Linked DNA regions of Homo sapiens: region 1 is linked to region 2. The links come from fine-mapping of genetic effects on gene expression. A gene starts in region 2. The other region holds a variant in brackets. All regions are shown on one strand. Distances are from middle to middle.

Region 1 (11,374 bases), 52 kb before region 2:
TCAGAAAAGTCAAATACTATTTTTAAATCTCTCTTGCATTGTTTTTCCCATTTGAAAATAACCATGGAGCTAAAAAGTAATAAAAAAATGTACTAAAACATTACCCAATAAAGAGCAGGCGTGAGTTGACAAGAAAAACAGGCAGCCAAACAGCCAAAAGCCAGTAGGTTGCAATAGCCACAGAGGGCCTCAGTTCCAATTAGGGGCAGTGGCTGCAGGGGAGGGCAATGGGCTCAGTTCAGGGGTCCCTTCATAATGGAAGATGACAGTGCCAGCTGGAGTTTGAGTCCAGACCACACCCAGCATGTACACACATGCACACGCCCTCATACATACACACACACAGGCCTTAGTAGGTGCTCCCTTCCCCCATCATGCAGCCATCTGCCAGGGGGCACTTTCTTCTTGATGGTGATATTAGTGGACTATTTATGTAAGCCAGCAAGCTTCTTGCATATATTTACATTTTACTGTCTACATTATAGTTTCTCAGGCAGCGGGAATCTTTTCATACTCAGTAGAGAATGCTGCCTCTGAAAGCTTTTGACATTAGTGATTTGCCCCTGGGTGATTTGTATTTCTACACAAGACCCACGTGTCAGAGCTATAGAGACCCCGTCTTTGTCCACCTCTCTGCAGCATGGCATTATTCCCTAAGTAGTGTTTGTGAGGTTGTTACCTCAGCTTCTCCTGGCCAGAGGCCACAAAGCTGTGACCCTTGACATTGTCAGTATAGATCTTTGTGAGGCAAAGGGCAGAAAAGGGAGCAAATGCTCTTCACCAGCTCAGGGGCACAGACCCTGCCTTCAGGCAGGCCTCACCACCTTTGCTCCTGAAGGGACAGCTTGTCCCTGATGATGTCCACAGTCTTCTCGGCTGGAAGCTCATTTCCAGCTAGGCTTAATGAAAGGGCAGTGAAAGCTGTCAGGAGATAGGGGCTGTGTTCTGATGGATCTTTTAGCATGAGGAGCAGTGGAAGAAGAAAACTGTCAATAACTAGAATGTAGTGTTCCTGTCAATTGTTTTTAATTATAGGAGTAATGAGGGTTTTCTAGGTCTACAGTTTGTATTTATGATCCTCTGTTGATTGAAATTCCAAACCTCTGTGCCTGAATGTTTATAGAACTGAAAGAAGGCCGTCTCTGCAGCTTCCATTTTTAGCACCTTTAACACTAAGACCCTCCAGATGCATTCTGTCTTTTCTTTCCGCTTGTGGATCTGGAGCCCTTAACCCATCCCTTGAAATAACGGTTTCTCTGAGGTTTCGGGATTCTTAATTCTAAGTTTCAGATTTCAGTGTTACAGCCAGAAGGCAACCACCATCTTGGACTTAGTTGTTTTGTTGCTCTTTGCTACAACTTTGGCAGTGCTAAGCGCACCCAGGTAAACATGAAGAGTTGAATATTTAGTTTATCATCATTTTTATAATTTCTGACAACTATTATTTGGTTATTTATTTTATACCAAGCCTGTGCTGAGTGTTTTACTGATACTTCCTCATTTAGCCCTCACAGCACTTAAAAGTTAGGTATGATCCCCATGAGGCAATTAAAACCCACAGCAGCAAAGTGGGAGAATCTGGGAGTCACATTTTAGACCCAGGCTGCCTGATTCCAAAGCCTGTGCTTGTAACCACCATACCCCACATCTTATTCCAGAAGTTTCTGTTTGTTTTCTATCTGAATGGTCCCGGAACAGGATTTGAATGCTTACGTGTATCATCCAGGAAAATCAGAAAATTTTAAAGAGAATCTAAACTCCCCACTTTAGTGGCCACCTCCTGCTGCTGAAATGCCTCATCTCACTGTCTTCTGTTGCATTCAGGCTCCCAGACAGTACACAAGGAACACTCAGCCAAATGTATGCTTTTATTCTTAGAGAATGTCAGCCCAAATCCCTGCCTCCTTTCCTACCTGGTCTGCTGGTATAGACAATCTAGACTGAGACAGGGACATTTTTAACCTCTCTACTTTGAACCCAAATCAGCCTCCTGCTTCATTCTCTCCTGGGACCCACATGGCCCCTCGTGCCACAAACTAGGCCTCCCTAAAGAATCTCCATAGAAATGCTCACCTTCTACAGGCCTCCAACACTTTCTCTTCTCTCTCAGAGGCCCTCATTGTGTCCTGTGCAGAGAGCATGGCCACCTGTGCCCTGCCCCACAAAGGGAATCATGTTCCTTCTCCCACTCTTTCATTTCTGTGCTGCTTCCAGACCTCAGTACGCATACTTAGTGGTCTTGCTGCCTTCCCAGGCCCTTCAGCAAGAGGAGGTCAAGATGGGGTGATGGCAAGTGGCATGGAAGAGAATGATGCCTATATCTGTCTCAGGATACCACTGATGTTAGATGTGGACACAGGAGCAGCAGGATTTTTGCCTTACTTTACTTCATGATTGGCCTTAACAAGCTGTCAGAAGACTGACAGCTGCATAGCTATGAATCGTTTAAATGTGAATCTTGCTGAGTAGAAATGCAGTTTTTTTTTAATGAGACCTAATAGTTGACAAATTGACACTACCTTCTGCCTGTAAAGTTCACCCTTGAAAGTGCTGCTATATTTAGAATATTATGCTCTAAGAATGATATTGTGGCATTTGGTGTATCTGCATTTTATAACACCTTATTTCTTTTTGTTTCATAAAGCACTTTAGATGGTTATTTATTTTTTAACTTGCTAGTGTTTAAAATTCCACCTGGAATCAGGGAGAAGGGAGTGCTCAAGCTATGTTCTTTCAGCTTCTTAAAACAAGCACCCAAAACAAAATGTCTGTTTGATGTTTACAGGTAATTATGACAGTGATGCACAATACAGAGTCAAATCTAGTTTTGCTTTTCATGGATTTTTTGACAGTCCTGTTAAAAGGGACAGGTGAGGCTGGGCGTGGTGGCTCACGCCTGTAATCCCAGCACTTTGGAAGGCCGAGGTGGGCGGATCACGAGGTTAGGAGTTTGAGACCAGCCTGGCCAGCATAGTGAAATCCTGTCTCTACTAAAAATACAAAAATTAGCTGGGCATAGTGCCATGCGCCCCTGTAATCCTGTAAGCCACCTCAGAAGGCTGAGGCAGGAGAATCACTTGAGCCCAGGAGGCAGAGGTTGCAGTGAGCCGAGATAATGCCATTGCACTCCAGCCTGGGCGACAGAGCGAGACTCCATCTCAAAAAAAAAAAAGGGGGGGACAGGTGATTACCCAGAAGATTCCATTTTAAAATGAGCTGGTTCTTACCAGGCCTGGCTTAGACAGGCATCTCAGCCAGAAACCTCTGTGTGGGCTGGGCTGCTAGACATGCTGTTATGCGCATGTACTGTTCAGGTTGTTTCCCTCTCCTCGTCTGTCTCCGTCCTTGTCCTTCCCCTTCTGCCCTTCTTTCCTTCCTTGTATCATTTACAGTTTGCGTCAAGAATATATTGGAAGAAAAAAAGAAAAATGTAAATATTCGAACCATAAAACTAACTTAAATTGCTATAGATAAGTTTCAAACTTGGCTTTAAACTTCATGAAGCCAAAGATAAGAGAGAAACAGAATCAGCTATCTGATTCTCATTATCAGAAGGAAGAAAATGTATCAATTCCTAAGAGAAAGTTAAGCATCTCTTTTTTTTTTTTTTTTTGAGACGGAGTCTCACTCTGTCACCCAGGCTGGAGTGCAGTGGCATGATCCCGGCTCACTGCAAGCTCTGCCTCCCAGGTTCACGCCATTCTCCTGCCTCAGCCTCCCGAGTGGCTGGGACTACAGGCACACGCTACCATGCCCGGCTAATTTTTTTGTATTTTTAGTAAAGATGGGATTTCACCATGTTAGCCAGGATGGTCTCAATCTCCTGACCTCATGATCTGCCTGCCTCGGCCTCCCAAAGTGCTGGGATTACAGGTGTGAGCCACCACACCTGGCCAAGAAAGTTAAGCATTTCTTGGCACTTAATTCTAAAGTACTTATAAGGACTTTTATACAGAGAGCTTCATACGGGAAGTACTAAGAGATGGGAGGACCAAAATTCTTGATCACCTTCCTGTTGTAGAGGTAGTATAGGATTCCATATGGCTGCTGTTCGTTAACAATCAAGGACTGTCATATAGGGCTGAACCCCACCCCCACCCCTGGGGTCTTCTCACATCGTAAACTAGGGTTCAAGATGAACCCTACTCTATCACATGGCATGAGCAAAGAATGGGCTCTAATGGAGAAAGGGAAAACTCACAGGACCAATGTACTGCTGAACACGACAACCAGGGACAGCAGGACAGAAGTGAGGGCATGAAGCCAGGTGCAGTGGCTCATGCCTGTAATTCCAGCACTTTGGGAGGCCAAGGCACACAGATCACTTGAGGTCAGGAATTTGAGACCAGCCTGACCAACATCGTGAAACCCCCATCTCTACTAAAAATACAAAAATTAGCTGGGTGTGATGGCAGGCGCCTGTCATCAGCTACTTGGGAAGCTGAGGCAGGAGAATCGCTTGAACCTGGGAGGCAGAGGTTGCAGTGAGCCAAGATTGCACCACTGCATTCCAGCCTGGGCGACAAAGCGAGACTGCCTCAAAAAAAAAAAAAAAAAAAAAAGAAGGCATGAGTCCCGCTATCCTTTGCATCCCTCAAAGTCCCCTTTCAGGGCCTGGGCACACCAGACCTACAATATGAACTTGTGACCCGGTGGAGGGACTTCTTATTACACTTTTTCCCTGCAATAGCTCAAACACGAGAGCAGCCTCGTCACAATGAGCAGGTTAGAATCATGGGCTGGATTTGGAGTTTAGGGAGCTGTCTGGGAATGTCAGTTGCTCAGCATCCAGGGACCATAGGGCTGCAAGATATTTTAGCTTTTTCTGTTGGGGACAAATAGTAACCAGTCTATGGAGAGCAGAGCTGAGGCATAGCCTCGTCATCATTCCAACCCAGAGTCAGTTTCCAGAGGCCTTTAAGACAACACCACCCATTACCCCAGAGGAACTTAAGGTCACACCATGTGAAAATAATTCCGAAAGAGATTGTGATTATATGCTTCAAGTAGCTAAGTGACTAGAGGTCCATTTTGACCCAAAGATAGAATTTGGAGTACCCAGAGAGGTGATAATTGTGTGACCTTCAAATGATGATCCTGTACACATTAGTTTTCTCAGATAGGTTTTTCTGTACAAGTTGTTGACAGTTCAAAATTGTGCTTTCTCTAGAGGTCTTTGTTTCTGTATATACTGATTCTGTGAATCAGCATAGCTGTTCTAGAAATAGGATGAGTAGTTGCTACAGCTGATATTCTAAAAGAGGCTGCATTGCAGAATTAAGAGCCAGGCTGTCTGGGTTTGAATCCTTGCTTTGCCACTTCTAGCTTTTACTGGATTTCTCTATGCCTCTGTTTACCCATCTGTAAAATGGGGATGTAATAGTACCTAACTCATAGGATTTTTAGAAGAATAAATGAGTTAACATATATTTGTTTATTGTATACACTTATGGGGTACAAAGTGATATTATATGTGTACCGTGTGGGATGATTAATTCAAACTAAAACATCACCTCAAACACTTAGCATTTTTAATGATAAGAACATTTGAAATTTATTCTATTAGCAATTTTGAAATGTACTATGCATTCCTACCAACTATAGTCGTCATGTTGTGCAATAGATTTCAAAAACCATCTTCCTCCTGTCTAACTGTAACTTTGTACCCTTTAACTAAAACCTCCCCATTTCCTCCCCCCTTAGCCTCTGGTAACTACCATTCTGTTCTCTGCCTCTATGAGTTCTATTGTTTAAGATCCCACAAATAAGTGAGACCATGTGGTATTTGTGTTTCTGTGTCTGGTTTATTTA[G/A]CTTAACGTAATGTCCTCCAGGCTCATCCGTGTTGTCGAATGACAGGATTTGCTTCTTTTTGAAGGCTGAATAGTACTCTATTTTGTATATATGTCATATTTTCTTTATCTACTCATCCATTGATAGACACTTAGATTGATTCCATAACTTGGCTATCGTAAATAATGCTGCATTGAGCATGAAGTGCGCTATCTGTTCAACATGCCAATTTCAAGTCTTTAGGATATGTACTCAAGTGGGGTTGCTAAGTCATATTGTAATTCTATTTTTAGTTTTTTGAGGAACTGCCATACAGTTTTCCAAAATGGTTGTATTAATTTACATTCCCACCAACAGTGTACAAGGGTTCCCTTTTCCCCCACACTCTCACCACAATCTTTCATTTTTTTAAATAATAGTCATTCTGACAGGCATGAGGTGATATCTCATTGTGGTTTTAATTTGCATTTTCCTTATGATTAGTGATGTTGAGCATTTTTTCATATATCTGTTGGTCATTTATATGACTTTTTTTGAGAAACATCTATTCAGGTTTTTTGCACATTTTTAAATTGGGTAGTTTTCTTGCCATTTTTGTGTTCCGTATAGATTTTGAATGTTAGCTTCTTATCAGATGTATGGCTTTCTTCTAATCTATTAGTTGTCTTTTTATTCTCATTATTTCTTTTGCTGTGCAGAAGCTTTTTACTTTAATGTAATCCCATTTGTCTATTTTTTCTTTTATTGTCTCAGCTTTTGGGATCAAATCCAAAAAGTTACCTCCCAGACCAGTGTCATGGAAGTTTCCCCCTATGTTTTCTTTCTTCTAGTTTTTTTTACAGTTTCAAGTCCTTTCAAGACCACACCTTGACTTTTATCCGTTTTTGAATTGATTTTTTATATGGTATGACCTAAGGGTCCAAATTATTCTTCTTTAGATGGATATCCAGTTGTCCCAACACCCTTTATTGGAGAGGCTGTCCTTTTCCCATTGTGTTTTCTTGGCACCTTTGTTGAAAATCAATTGACTGTAAATGTGTGGGTTCATTTATGGGCTCTATGTTCTGTTCTATTTCTTAGTGTTTCTATTTATATGCCAGTACCATGCTATTCTAATTACTATATAGCTCTGTAATATAGTTTAAAATTAGGTAGTGATACCTCCAGCTTTGTTATTTTTACTTATGATTGCCTTAGCTAATCAGGGATTTTTATGGTTCCATATGAATTTTAGGATTATGTTTTCTATTTCTGGGGAAAAAGACATTGGAATTTTCATAGGGATTGCATTGAATCTGAAGATTGGTTTGGATAGTATGGACATTTTAACAATATTAATTCTTCAAGTCCGTGAACACAGAATAGCTTTCCATTTATTTTTTTGTCAATTTATTTCATCAATGTTTTACGGTTTTTAGTGTACAAATCTTTCACTTCCATGGTTAAATTTATTCCTAAGTACATTTATTCCTAAGTATTTTACATTCTTGTAGCTATTATATGTAGGTATTTTCTTGATTTCCTTTTCAGATCATTCATTGTTATTGATTAGATTTGTCTTAATTTTGTATCCTGGGACCTTATTCCTTTATTAGTTCTGTCTTTTGGTGGTATCTTTTTGGTTTTGGATATGTAAGATAATGTCATATGCAAGCAGGTAATATTTCATGTCTTTCTTTTCTATTTGAGTGCCTTTTCTTTCTTTCTCTTGCCTAATTGCTCTGACAAAGACCTCCAGTAGGATTATGAATAAAAGTGCTTGCTGACAGTGGACATCTTTGTCTTGTTCCTGATCTTAGAGGAAAAGCTTTCAACTTTTCACCATTGAGTATAATGTTAGCTGTAGGCTTATCGTATGTGGCCGTTAATTTGTTGAGAGTTTTTATTATAAAAGGGTGTTGAATTTTGTCAAATGCTTTTTCCGCATCTAATAAAATGATCATATGGTTTTTGTCTTTTGTTCTGCTGATACGATGCATCACATTTATTGATGTATATATGTTGACACATCCTTGCATTTCTCCCAGGGAGAAATCTCATTTGATCATTGTGAATAATCCTCTTAATGTGCCGTAGAATTGGATTTGTTAGTAGTTTGTTGAGGATTTTGTATCTTCATATCTATGTTCATCAAGGATATTGCCCTGTAAGTTTCTTCTATGTCATTTTGTGGCTTTAGTATCAGGGCCTCCTAAAACTAGCTTGGAAGTATTCCTTCCTTTTTGATTTTTTTGGACAAGTTTGAGAAGGATTGGTATTAGCTCTTCTTTAAACCTTTTATAGAATTCACCTGTGGAGCCATCAGGTCCTGGGCTTTTCTTTGATTGGAGACTTTTTATTATGGATCCAATCTCTTTACTCATTATTGGTCTGCTCAGATTCTCTGTTTGTTCTATTTCTGTTTTCTATTTCTTCTTGATTCAGTGTTAGTAGATTATATGTGTCTAGGAATTTTATCCATTTTTTTCTAGTTTACTGGATTTGTGGCCATATGATTTGTCATAGTAATCGCTCATTATCCTTTGTATTTCAGTGGTACCAGTTGTAATATCTTCTCTTTCATTTCCAATTTGATTTAAGTCTTCTCTTTTTCTTTTTTAGTCTAGTTAAGGGTTTGTCAATCTTGTTTAACTTTTCAAAAAACTCTTTGTTTTGTTGATTTTTTCCCCTGGTTTTCTAGTCTGTATTTATTTCTGCTCTGATCTTTGAATTGTTTTCCTTCTGCTAACTTTGGGCTTAAATTTGTTCTTCTCTTGTAGTTTCTTGAGTAGGTTCTTTATTTGAGATGTTTATTTTTATTTAAGTATTTGTTGCTATAAATTTCCTTCTTAGAACTGCTTTTGCTGTATCCCATACGTTTTGGTATATTGCATTTCCATTTTCATTTGTTCCAAGATGTTTTTTGATTTCTCTTTTGTTTTCTCCTTTGACCCATTGGTTGTTGAGGGGCATGTTGTTTAATTTCCACATATTTGTGGCATTTCAAAGATTTTTCCTATTATTGATGTCTAGTTTCATACCATTCTGATTAGAAAAGATACTTGATATGATTTCATTTCTCCTAAATTTGTTCAAACTTGGTTTGCGACCTAACATATGACATATCCTGAAGCAAGATACGTGTGCACTTGAGAAGACGTCTGTTCCCTTGCTGTTGGATAGAATATGCTGTATATGTCTGTTGGGTCCATTTGGTCTAAAATGTAGTTCAAGTTCATTGTTTCCTTATTAACTTTCTATCTGGATGATCTGCCGTTGTTGAAAGTGAGGTATTGAAGTCCCCTACAATTACTGCATTGTAAGTTATTTCTGTCTTTAAATTATTTAATATTTGCTTTACATATTTAGGTGCTCTGATGTTGGGTACAGATATATTTACAGTTGTTATATCCTCTTGATGAATTGACACCTTTATCATGATGACTTTCTTTGCCTTTTTTTATTGCTTTGAGCTTAAGTCTATTTTGTCTGATAAAGGGATAGCTAGTCCTGCCTCTCTCAGTTTCCATTTGCATGGAATATCTTTCTTCATACTTTCACTTTTATTCTTTGTGTCCTTAGAAATGAGTTGAGTCTCGGGCCAGGCGCAGTGGCTCATGCCTGTAATCCCAGCACTTTGGGAGGCCGAGGTGGGTGGATCACAAGGTCAGGAGATCGAGACCATCCTGGCTAACACGGTGAAACCCCATCTCTACTAAAAATATAAAAAATTAGCCAGGTGTGGTGGCAGGCGCCTCTAGTCCCAGCTACTCCGTAGGCTGAGGCAGGGGAATGGCGTGAACCCAGGAGGCAGAGCTTGCAGTGAACCAAGGCATTCCAGCCTGGGCTACAAAGCAAGACTCCGTCTCAAAAAAAAAAAAGAAGTGAGTTGACTCTTTTGTAGGCAGCACATAGCTGGGTTTGTTTGTTTGTTTGTTTGTTTGAGACGGAGTCTCACTCTGTCACCCAGGCTGTAAGTGCTGTGGTACAATCTTGGCTCACTGCAAACTCTGCCTCCCGGGTTCACGCCATTCTCCTGCCTCAGCCTCCCGAGTAGCTGGGACTACAGGTGCCCGCCACCACACCCAGCTAATTTTTTGTATTTTTAGTAGAGATGGGGTTTCCCCATTCACAGCATGGTCTCGATCTCCTGACCTTGTGATCCACCCACCACGGCCTCCCAAAGTGCTGGGATTACAGGCGTGAGCCACCACACCCAGCCAGCTGGGTCTTATTTTTTATACATTCAGCCATTTTTTCTTTTACAAATGGAGATTTTATTGCTCTTAAAATAATTATTGATAGGTAAGGACTCAATAATACTAGTTTGTAGTTTGTTCTCTGATTGTTTTGTGGATGCTTTGTTTCCTTGTTCCTCTCTTGCTGTCCTCCTTTGTGGTCTGATTGTTTTCTGTAGTGGTATGCTTTGAATTCTTTCTATGTATGTTTTGTGCCTCTACTCTAGATTGTTGTTTTGTACTTACCATGAGGCTTCCAAAAACCATATACTCATAACAGGGTATTTCAAGCTGATAACACTGAATTTTGATAACATACAACAACTCTACATTTTTATTCCCCTTCCCTACACATTTTAATATTTTGATGTCAAAATATACATCATTTTGTAATTTGTATCCCTAATTTGGGCTATACTTTTGTTTTCTTTTTTCTTTTTTTTTTTTTTGAGACAGAGTCTCGCTCTATCACCCAGGCTGGGGTGCATTGGTGCCATCTTGGCTCACTACAACCACCACCTCCCCGTTCAAGCGATTCTCATGATTCAGCCTCCTAAGTAGCTGGGACCACAGGTGTACACCACCATGCCTGGCTAATTTTTGTACTTTTGGTAAAGACAGGGTTTTGCCATGTTGACCAGGCTGGTCTGGAACTTCTGGCCCAAAGTGATCCGCCCACCTCAGCCTTTGAAAGTACTGGGATTATAGGCATGAGTCACTGTGCCTGGCCTTGAGCTCTAATTTTAATAGTTTTTAACCTTGTATTAGAGATAAAATTATTTTACAGACCACTATTACACTTCTAGGTTTTTCTGAGTATGACTCTATATTATTTATAGCATTGATTTTTGTGTTTTCATATATTTTATTAAATTAGCAGCCTTTTATATCAGCTTAGAGAACTCCATTTAGCAATTTCAATAGGCAGGCCTACTGCTGATGAACTCCATTAGCTGTTGCTTGGGAAAGTTTTTATTTCTTTCTCATTTCTGAAGGATAGCTTTTTTGGTTGGCAGCACTTTAAATATATCATCTCATTTTATGCTGCCCTGCAGGGTTTTTGCTGAGAATCCTCTAGTAGCCATATTGCAAGTTCTTTGTATGTAACAAGTTTCTTATTTCTTGCTGCTCTCAATTTTTTTGTCTTTTATTTTTGACAGTTTATTATGTGTCTTGGTGAACTCCTCTTTGGGTTGAATTTTTAGTACAAGTCTACAGTTAAAACTTGCTATTTAATTTTTCAGTTCAGTTGTTGTTGTCTCCATTTCCAGGATTTCTATTTGGTTTTTGTTATAGTTTCTGTTTTTCTGTCAGATTTCTCATTTTGTTCATATATTGTGTTCCAGATTTCATTTAACTTTTTATT
Region 2 (11,055 bases):
GAATCCACAGCAGGATCTTCTATATGCTCTCCCCTAATCCTGAAGGATTTCCATAACCAGTCCAGACTACACGCTCAAATTGTTTTCAAAGAGTAGGTGAAGAAAAGGTAATTTGCAATTAATTTCTATCTCTGAAACTGAGGTATTTTAAATGGATTACATAATTACATGCTAAAACAAGCCTCCATAACAAAGTATATTAAATGCAACTTTCTATACCAAAAGCATCTCTGAGGCTGTAATGCTGTTCTTTTAGAGTATTTTCAACAAAACTTCAAAAGATTTCACAGGTATTTGTCTACAACTCTAGTTTGCCACCGGGCTACAAGAAAAGACAAAACAACAACAAAAACCCTTAGTGGATTCGTTTTGGTCACTTACCACTTTCATGGCCCTGAACAATTAAATCTCTAGGCCTGTTTTCTTATTTGGACCTGTTTTTTTTATTTGTAAATAAGACTAGTGGCCAGGCCCAGTCACTCAGGCCTGCAATGCCAGCACTTTGGGAGACCAAGACAGGAAGATCGCTTGAGCCAGGAGTTCAAGACCAACCAGGGCAACATAGCAAGATCCCATCTCTAAAAAATTTTTAAAAATAAGTAAAAAAAAATGGGACTAGTACCTATCTACCTATCAGAATTGTTGTAGGTATAAAAGATATTACATCCCACAGACACTGCCCAATCCACATCTATACAAGTTCTTAGTAATTTCATGCTCATTCAACATGAAATACTATATTGATCAAGACAATAGAAAACCCATTAATAGCAGAAGCAGTCATCCACAAACTGTTTTAGGAGTACTGTCAATTCAAATAAGTATTTAAGATGAGTCATATAAGATAAGTCACATATTAAAACGACATCATCTAAAAATTCTTATGAAACTTGTTTTCCTAAACTTTGGTGCTTCATAATTTCTATTATCATTTTCTATGGAGAAACTAGAAACATAATTTTCTCCATAATGTGGTTCACTGAGTTTACAAAACTAAGATGAAACTAGAAAGTGAAATCAAAACTTCATTCTATAATTTATCAGTCGAGTAAGCACAAACAATATTTTGCTTTAAAGTGGTTAAATGGCTCCTCAAAAGTATAAGATAAACTCCTAAACATTTTTACATTATCTATAAAAACTTGTGGGAAAAGCTTTTTTTTAAAGCTATGATCAATAACTTTTAAAAACTCAACCACAATTATGGAGAAAATTATGTTTCTAGTTTCTCTATAGAAAATGATAGTAGAAATTATGAAGCACCAAAGTAAATGCTGATAAGTATATGAAAAATGTGAATGTTACTGATATCAGGCAATTAATAAGAATATTAGAGTATGCCATTTTTCCCTGAATTTTGTGATATGCAGGTATCTGGCAGCTTTAATTTTTTTTTAATTCATTGTGATTTATTTTTCCATTCTAAGTAAATACTCACTTTCATACTTAACAGACATAAAATTCCTGGCATTGACTCTTTTTTTTTTTTTTTTTTGGAGAGGAAGTCTCGTTCTGATGCCCAGGCTGGAGTACAGTGGCCTGATCTTGTCTCACTGCAATCTCTGCCTCCCGGGTTCAAGCGATTCCCTTGCCTCAGCCTCCCAAGCAGCTGGGACTACAGGTGTGCGCCACCATGCCCAGCTAACTGTTGTATTTTTAATAGACAATTTCACGACGTTGGCGAGGCTGGTCTTGAACCCCTGACCTCAGGTGATCCACCCGCCTCAGCCTCTCAAAGCGCTGGGACAGGCGTGAGACACCGTGCTGGGACAGTAGTAACTTCTAATGGATAATGTATGCGTGGGGTGGAAAGGGGAGTACCAGTATTTTTATTTCAAACACATATACAAAACACCAGCTTGCAATTCACCCTGAAGAACCCTCAGCACAGAGCAGTTTCATAAGTCCATGCCATCGTGCCATATGCCTTCTTCACTGGCCACTTCGATTAGTGAGGAAAGAATCCAAAGAAGTTAAAATATAGTGGGCCGGGCACGGTGGCTCACACCTGTAATCCCAGCACTTTGGGAGGCCGAGGCGGGCAGATCACGAGGTCAGGAGATTGAGACCATCCTGCTCAAAATGGTGAAACCCCGTTTCTATTAAAAATACAAAAAAATTAGTTGAGAGTGGTGGCGCTCACCTGTAGTCCCAGCTACTCAGGAGGCTGAGGCAAGAGAATCGCTTGAACCCAGAAGGTGGAGGTTGCAGTGAGCCGAGATCGCACCCCTGCACTCCAGCCTGGCGACAGAGCGAGACTCCCTCTCAAAAAAAAAAAAAAATATATATATATATATATATATATATATTTATACATGTATATGTTATATATTTTATATATATACATGTATATGTTATATATTTTATATATATACATGTATGTTATATATTTTATATATATACATGTATATGTTATATATTTTATACATATACATATGTATATAGTGAAGAAAACAACTCTTACAGTGACAGTATCATGTTTGACGTCTGAGAGGTATGCCCTGTGAAGCACACAGGATAGCGGAGACATGTAGGTGGGCAATCCTGGGAGAAGGTACCCTTTTAACTAGGGTATGTAGTTAGGAGTTTGAGAAGTTAAGAAAGAGGAAGGGTTTTCGAGACAGAAAAGATAAGTAGGTTTACAAAACTAAGATGAAACTAGAAAGTGAAATCAAAACTTCATTCTATAATTTATCAGTAGAGAAAGCACAAACAATATTTTGCTTTAAAGTGGTTAAACGGCTCCTCAAAAGTATAACATAACCCAAAAACTTTAGGGAGTGGATTTAATTCTCAATATAATTCAAATTTCCTTGAAATTTTGTCAACTACTGTCTACCTTGCAAGAACTGAGTTTAACCAAGGCAACTGAACAGATGACCGACTCTACCACACTCATTTGCAAGATAAAGGAAAATAGCAAAAAAAAACCAAAAGTACAAGACATACATTGCAGATTTAGATCACTGTTAAATGACCAGAAAAGTATTTCCAATGTTAAAATTATTCTAATTCTCAAAAAGTACCTTTAATTTCAAAACCACTATTAGGAGTGCTTACGGCTATTCAGAGGGAAGTATTAATAAAGCTAAAGCCTCCATCCGAGCTGTTAGTAGGACTCCATCGCTTCCCAGTATGTATAACTCCTTTTCTAAGCCTCCTCTCGTCCTGGCATCAGTGGCACCATGAGCCAAAAACAAAACAAACAGAAAACTTGAGTATTACCTCGCTGTCAGTGCTCCTTCTAAAAACGACTGTAGCTGAAAACTCCCTAAGAATGAACTCGAGTGTAGAGTGCACAGCGGAGAGTGAAACACCCTAGACAGCACGCAGCATTTAAAGCTACAAAAACCTGGCTGTCCACTTCGCCTGGTTTGTTTTGTTTTGTTTCAATCGGCCTGCGGTGGCAGCATAGGTTGAAAGGCGGAGACTGGAATCGCCTGCCAAGCCTCCTCTTTGGGTCACACAGAGCGGTGCCTCCCGGTTCACGCCAAGTCCATCCCCCACCCTCTTTCGCCATTCATCGCGTTCCCCTCCCTTCCCCCCATCATGTGACCGCAGCCCGGACTCCGGGCTTGTTTTTCCCCTCGGCTCAGCCCCAGCGCGCAGGCGCCTGGGAGCCCATTCATTCGAACTGCGTAACAATGAGCCCCGGGGCCCAGCGGCTCCGCGAGCTCCTCAGCTCAGCCAGAATCCCCCTCAGTCCAGAAGGAGGCGGCGCCTCACTGGGGTCCCCCACCTCCGGCCAGCCCCCCACCCCTGGCCAAGCTCCGACCCTCCGCCCACAAACGGGGAGTTGAAGTCAAACTTTCCTGGGCAGCCCCGGCGCTGCGTCGGCCCCTTCCCCCGCCCTGGCCCGCCCCATCTCCACACCCGGCCCGGCCACCCACCGCGCGACCTGGCCCGGAACTTCGCCCTCCCCCTGCCTCCTCCCGGCCCCCGCCCGAGACCCCCTAGCGCCGCCGCCCCGAAGCCCAGGTGAGCTCGCGGGAGACGCTGCTCCGGTGGGCTCGCCGCGGGCACCAATCGAACGGTTAACTGCCCCCACCCCAAGGGCAACCCTCCGAGAAGAAGGAACGAGGACCCGAGCCCTCCAGTCTGCCCAATCCCCCGCGCTCCTGCCCCTCCCTTCCCCACCCCCACCTCTTCCCTAACTGAAAGACAACAAACCTGCCGCGAAGTGCCGGCAGCCCAGGCGCGGGCCGCTCCGGCCACGACAACACCACCAGCAGCTCTCGTACCCCCTCTCCGACCGACGTCGGCCTCCCCCGCGCGGGTTACTGCTCCCGCGGCAGCTCTTACTCCTCAACCGAAACTTTCCTACTTACCAAACCCGTCGCCATTACCAAGTCTTTCAAGCTTCGTCTTCCCCCTCCCCTCAACCCCCTGGGGGTTGAGCCCCGCCCAGCTCTTTCGCCCTCTTATTGGACTGCAGAACTGCCATTCGGTTCTTCCCCTTTCCCATTGGGTGGTACCGTGGTCCGTCTCGGGGGGCGGGCATGTATTGACTTTTGTGTTGTGTTTACTGGAGAAGATGGCATGTCAATCACAAGAGTAAGTGCTTCGGATTGGACTATTGCCGAGAGTCCGGGGACCCAAGCCAAACTTTGTCCCCGAAATGGATTGTGGGTTCGTAGTCTCAAGCCTTGGTCCTTGGCTGTGGGAGACTGCTGGCCGGGGAAGAGCTGGACTACGTATCCCAGAGGCGCTCGCACAGCGCAGTCTTGATAGTAAACAAGAGTCATAGGGACACGTGTATCAGCTCGTTTGTTTTGGTGTCTGGGACAAAAGGGAGGGGGCGGAGGAAGGGAGTGTTTTAAAGCTTGGGCCTCTTCTTTTCCTCCGGGCCTCTGCTAACACTTAGAGCGGCCCAAGCCTCTTGCAGCACCCAATCCGGGCCATAAACAGCCAGAGTTGCTCGCTGCTCAAGAGTTTGGCAGGAGGCCAGGGTATTGTTTTAGTGCGAGGGGAAGGAGATGACTGCACCAGCGGAAGTACTGCAGGCTAGCGAGGGACTTGATCACCCACAAATCACGGCCCCAGGCACGAAGGGGTCGAAAGTGATGCTGGGGGCTGCACTGGCAGTGGGAAGAACTAGAAGTCCTTTCTCTTGTGCCTTGCCTCACCACTCCCAGGACAGCAACTTGAGATTGCCTTGTCAGCTCTGTTCAGTTCACCTAAGTTTGTTGAGCCGCCACCTAAGTGCCAGGAAGAGTGAGGCTGGGGGATGGACTGTGAGCAAGCGAGAAGCTGGAGTCTAGAGAATTTACAAAGCGGGGGCGGGGGCGGGCGATTACGAAATTGAGGCAAGTTAAAGCGGCATTTTCCATACTGATTAGTATGCTCGTTGGTTAACGTAATACAAAGGGTGTAATGTATGACGTAAACTGATTTAATTTGTGAATCATTATCAGTAAGTTTCTCTGGTGAGTTTTATTAACCCTCTTTTCCTTCTAGACGTTTTCTCATTGATGAAAGAAACTGTCTTTCCACTTCATTTCCACTAGGAGTTCCTCAAGTTACGAATTCTCTGACTCACCAGAGACGCTTCCCTGCTTTATAGTTAACTTCTCTTTAAACATGGCTGTCCATTCACAGTCGGCTGCATCTAGTCAATAATTGGTGTCTTTACCATTCACATTACAAAGGCATGATTAAGCTTTTTCCCCCCTTTGAACCTTTAGTGTTTAATCATTTAAATTGTGCTTTAGATTTTCTAACTTTAGATCACTAAATATATGCTTAGAATTAAGATGAGGAAAACCTACATTAGTAAGAAATCTGTAAAAGCAAACCTTTGGACAGAGCCAGAAATCACACAGCTAGTTATTTCTTTAAAACCTCCTGCATTTCTTGGATTTTTAAATATACCTGAAAGCCGCGTAACAAATCAAGAAATCCAAAATAAGCCCCCACATGTTGAAATCGAGTTTAAAATTCTTGAGAATTCCCCATTTGAATCCGTGAAGTGAAATTATAAAGTAGTCCTCCCGTGTAATCAAATACTTACTTTCTATGTTCACAAATAGTAATAAAGCATTCTATTTTTTATTAAAATAATTCAGAGGAGAGCCAACAGAATGCTTAATTTTTTCCCTGAGGAAAAAGGACAGGATTTGAATTTATCATCTTTCAGAAATTATTAGTGACTCAAAGAAATGAATGTCTCTGCTACTTTGTGTATGCTTTTTTTTTTTTTTTTTTTTTTTACAATGGAGGGTCATCGTGTACTAGAATAGAAAATATAAACTCTACTCCAACATGTAATTTCTTGACAAAAAAGAAAAATCTGTGAAGTTCACCTAATTATTTAAAATTGTTTTGAGATATTTATGTCTAACTCCTCCTAGAAAACTAAAAAACTTTTCTCTTAAAAAAAAAAAAAAAAAAGAGCTGGCAAGAGATTGACATACTGCTTTACCCCTCTCCAGTACACAAACTGTGAGATCTGCTTTCAGCTAAACCTTGTTTTTAAAAGTTAAACTATTTTAAAGTTTTTACCAAATGCCTTAGTGGTGATTTTTTTTATCGGGGGACACCGGAAATGGGGAAAAAAAATTCAACTTTAGATCCAGATATTGTACAATATGTTACAAATAATAATTTATCCTTTAATAGCTCCATAAAGCCTTTTCCATTCATTCAGAAACGTTTAGTTCCATTTTTTGACCACTGTGCCAATTATTGAGAATAAAAAGATAGAAAACATTTTTTGCACACTTTTTCTCATTTTTATCCAAGTCTTTAATATGAGTTAAATTTAGATAGTTTAGTCACAACTGATTAAATACTAGTATTAGAATTCGCTACACCTTTAAGTGGACACTTAGTCCAATCTTCTGACTTCCGTGGGGGGCTAAATGACCACATTAGTAGCTTATGTGTATTTACCAGAGACATCATCATTAATTGAGTGACCAATAAAACTAGCCAACTTATAAGCCAGAACAAAGATCAAAGTACAAAACTAGTAAGATCTCCTTGGAAATTTTTACATGTGCTAATTATACTCTCAGACTAAAACAGATATAACTACAGTTTTTAACTATCTTTCAGATGTTTCCATGATAAAATTGAAGTTAAAAAATCAGTTACTTTAAATAACACCTCTTCTTGATTGGTACAGTCACCATATCTATACACACATATACACACATAAAATGTATGCAAAAAAATGTCAAGAAATTGTCAAATCAAAATGTCTTTCCAGCGGTTTGTAAAGTTACCTCTGTTATCTTAAATATCAAGTTCTAATTTGTTAGAGATAGTAAAAAACGAACAGAAGAAAAACAAAAAACCGGTAAATCCTATTTAGGAGTGAAATAATGTGTTTCCCTGATTCCACCATATTTGACACACCAATGACTGCTTTGCTTAACTACAGAGAAGTTCAAGTACATGCATTGCCTGATATTGAAAATAATCACTTTGAATTGTCAAAAGGTAAACAAATGAAATCACATGAACAAGTACTAAATGGAGAAATTGAACACATGTATGGTCTAAGTACTTCTCAAAGTTTTCAGACAGCATCTTGAATGTTTAAACTCCAACAAATATCCTTCCATATACCTTACTATCCTTTCAAATGAGTTAATTTTCTAATTAGTTCAAAGTACTCAGGTAATTCAGTCAAGTTGTAATGAAATCCACAGGAGCTAATGATGGCCATTGTAGAAGTGAGTCATCTGTCTCCTGTTCCTGTAGTTCTTGATGCAACTGAAGTTTAGATTTTGCTCCGATGACCAGAAAGCAAGACCTTTCTTCAGTGGCTGATAAGCTAATGTCTTAACACTATAACCACATTAGGAAGAAAAATCAACGTAAAAGGGAAGAATCAAAATGATTGTGTCTCCAGCTTGGGTAATTGCAGTATGTTGGGGAAGGGTGGTTATGTTGATGTTATTGACTGAGGGAATGCTGGAGAGGATAGCAGATTTGGGGACTGGGAGGAAGGGAAAGGATAGGTTCAACCTCGGGTGATAAGCATGCTGTGCAGGAAGAAATTTGAGTCCAGAGGTCCTTGGGCAGCTGAATATATTCATCTGGCATTTAGGAAGTCCAAGTCTGGAGAAATAAACCTGGGTATCCTCAGGACATAGAGAGGAGTACTCATTTTTTTATCCCAATTTTTCCCAAAAAGTTTTTGTCAAGTCTAATTTGGTATAAATGAAAATGTATTTAGAGAAGGCAACAATTCTATTTCATCTCACTCTCGATGTTTAAAATCAAGCTCAAATGACTATTCTCATGTCCTGCAAGTTTTCTAGAGATCATTACTGTTATCTGAACTATTTAACACAAACTCTCACATAGTATTTTCTACTCCCGTCTATTTGGTATCCTAGGACCTTCTCTATGTTTAGTTGCTAGCAAAAAGTACCTCATTTTAAGTGCAATTAAGTCAGATAAAGAGCAATTAAAATTGTAGGAATAGGGCGGGGCACGGTGGCTCACGCCTGTAATCCCAGAACTTTGGGAGGCTGAGGTGGGCAGATCACAAGGTCAAGAGATCAAAACCATCCTGGCCGAAATGGTGAAACCCCATCTCTACTAAAAATACAAAAATTAGCTGGGTGTGGTGGCACGCACCTGTATTCCCAGCTACTCGGGAGGCTGAGGCAGGAGAAACGTTTGAACCCAGGAGGCAGAGGTTTCAGTGAACCGAGATCACACCATTGCACTCCAGCCTGGGTGACAGAGCCAGACTCTGTCTCAAAAAAAAAAAAGTAGGAATAGTACACACATCGCTTTTATCACACTGTGCTAAACTGAATATTGTTGCTTACATTTGTCCCCCCTCCACATTTACATTCTCTCCTTATCAGTCACCATCTCATGCGCTTTTTTTTGTCTGGTCCATAATAAGCTATTAAAAAAATACCTACCTGTGGAACAAATGAATAAAAAGGGGAGACAAGCAGCATGAATTTTCTCATATACAGCGTAGTGTAGCACTATATATAGGATGCTGGTCTGAATATTTGACTTTGTTAAATAACTTGCATGCACTTTAACTGTCACTTCCTCTATGTAATCATTGTTATTATTTGAGAACGTCTCATCTTTCAGCTATGTTTATATGATAAGCACTATTATTCATTTTTGTTTCCCTCACAGTGTCAGTCACTCAAAGGCAAACAAAGTATTGGGTTGCTGCAAAAGTAATTGTGATTTTTACCATTTTTACCATTTAAAAAATGGCAAAAACCACAATTACTCTTGCACCAACCTAATTAACACTTCAACTCCTTCAAGTTATACAGAATATAAGTAATAAAAATGTTGAGGATATTTAATTGTTCAGCTTTAAAGTGCAATTATGAGAAAATAGATTTACCAAAGATGTCTTTATAGTGTGCACCTTTCTTAAAATATTGCTTGGCTTTTAAAAAATGTCATTTGTATATACCTCAAGAATATAGTCATTATGTAAAGGAAGTACACTTGTATTAAATGTCAGCCCTTGGCCTAAGAGAGGTGATGAAGTTTCAGGGATGCAGAGTTTATTCTCTTGTTCCTCAGCAAGATCTAGGAAGGTTTCTGATTAGAACCAAGATGGAAAACCAGTCATCAATAGCAACTTTATCTAAGATTTTAACTGGTCATATTTCCTGTTCATAAACTCATTCGAAGGTCTACTTTGTAACCTTTCTTTTCAAGTTAAATAGAAAATATTTAAGGTTTCATGTCTGGGTTGTTACAGTCAAAAGCTACAGAAAACTTTCCCTTGTGCCTGAAAAAAAGGTCATTTTCTGTTTTCCAGTGACAGTAAAAAATGCATTTATATGCTATAATGAATCAGTTATAATTGGTGCTGATAAAACATGATTTAATATATATACATTTTGTAGTAGCATTTTTTATATTTGGAAAAATGATGAGACTCAGGCTATGGTTACATCAAAATCTGTGAAAACCACCTCCTTGGTAGGTAGCATTCATTTTTGTGGTGTAGACATTACTTCCCTATCATGTATCACCACATTTTCCTATATATGTGATACATACTTCTTCAGGATTTTCTAGGCAATTTTAGATTTATAAATTTGAAGCATAAAAAGGTAAAGAAAGACCCAGATCTGTTGGTCACATCAAAAGTTTTCCTCTCAAAATAATCTTATTCTCTGCATTGGAAACTATATACCAATTTATATGCCAGGCTCATTAACATTATTTGGGAAAATATATGAGGCCATGAATTGGATGAAGAATCAATATATCTCAATTTTCCATAAGTTCTGCCATTGACTCACAAAGTAAATGACTTTAGTGAAGTCACTGATTGTCCTTAGGTATACAAATTGAACTGATTTAAGGTCTCATAGTTATTGACACAAGTCTTCTGCAAATAACTGGTATACTTTACTGCTTATATTTCCATAATTCATTACACTTTTAAAGGGTTTTTATACCTGTGAAGATGAACAACTCTGTAGTCTATTCAACCAGTTTTGCTGCCTTTAAAAGTATTCTAGAACAGGTAAGGTTGTCTCAACTCATTCCAATTCTTCATTTTTGTCAAAATTCTTTCTGATACTTGGCATCAGGCTATACCAAACACTAAATTTTAGAAGCCAGCATTCCTTAAAAACTATATTTCTCTTAGGTAGTAAATTTTTTTTTTTTTAAGAATCCCGTCCAGCAATTTAACAAAGCTCTGCCTTAATCCAGATGTATGACTCACCTCTCTAGGCCTACACAGTATTAATTTTCCTTAAGAATGGCAAAGGTCATCTCATCCTTTATAACGTTTTTTGAGAGGAAAAATTCTATCAGTATCTTTAAAGATGCTTTGGGAAGGGAAAGAACACAGCGTTTTTAAATTTTACATTTCAATAAAATCCGAAGTCTCTTGCTTCATGCCGTTTCACTTGAAGAATTTTTAAGCTTGTTTGTTTTATGGACGGAGTCTCGCTCTGTCACCAGGCTGGAGTGCAGTGGCACAATCTCGGCTCACTCCAACTTCTGCCTCCCAGGTTCAAGCGATTCTCCTGCGTCAGCCTCCTGAGTAGCTGGGACTACAGGCACATGCCACCACGCCCAGCTAATTTT

Evidence for each region. PIP is the estimated chance that this variant, and not a neighbour inherited with it, causes the effect.
Region 1: its variant is fine-mapped to the expression of HBP1 in whole blood (TOPMed, PIP 0.95).

Annotation. Positions count from the first base shown.
Region 1 is chr7:107,214,004-107,225,377 of GRCh38, reverse strand. The region is part of intron 19 of COG5 (component of oligomeric golgi complex 5); the gene reads left to right. It overlaps LOC124901721 (a long non-coding RNA gene), which reads right to left and starts at 3,316. Exons shown (of 3, transcript XR_007060472.1): 1 at 3,228-3,316. The variant G/A (reference allele first, on the strand shown) is at 5,812.
Region 2 is chr7:107,162,301-107,173,355 of GRCh38, reverse strand. It overlaps HBP1 (HMG-box transcription factor 1), which reads right to left and starts at 4,353. Exons shown (of 11, transcript NM_012257.4): 1 at 4,171-4,353. RefSeq lists silencers at 3,654-3,873, 4,134-4,233, 4,252-4,825 and an enhancer at 4,544-4,703.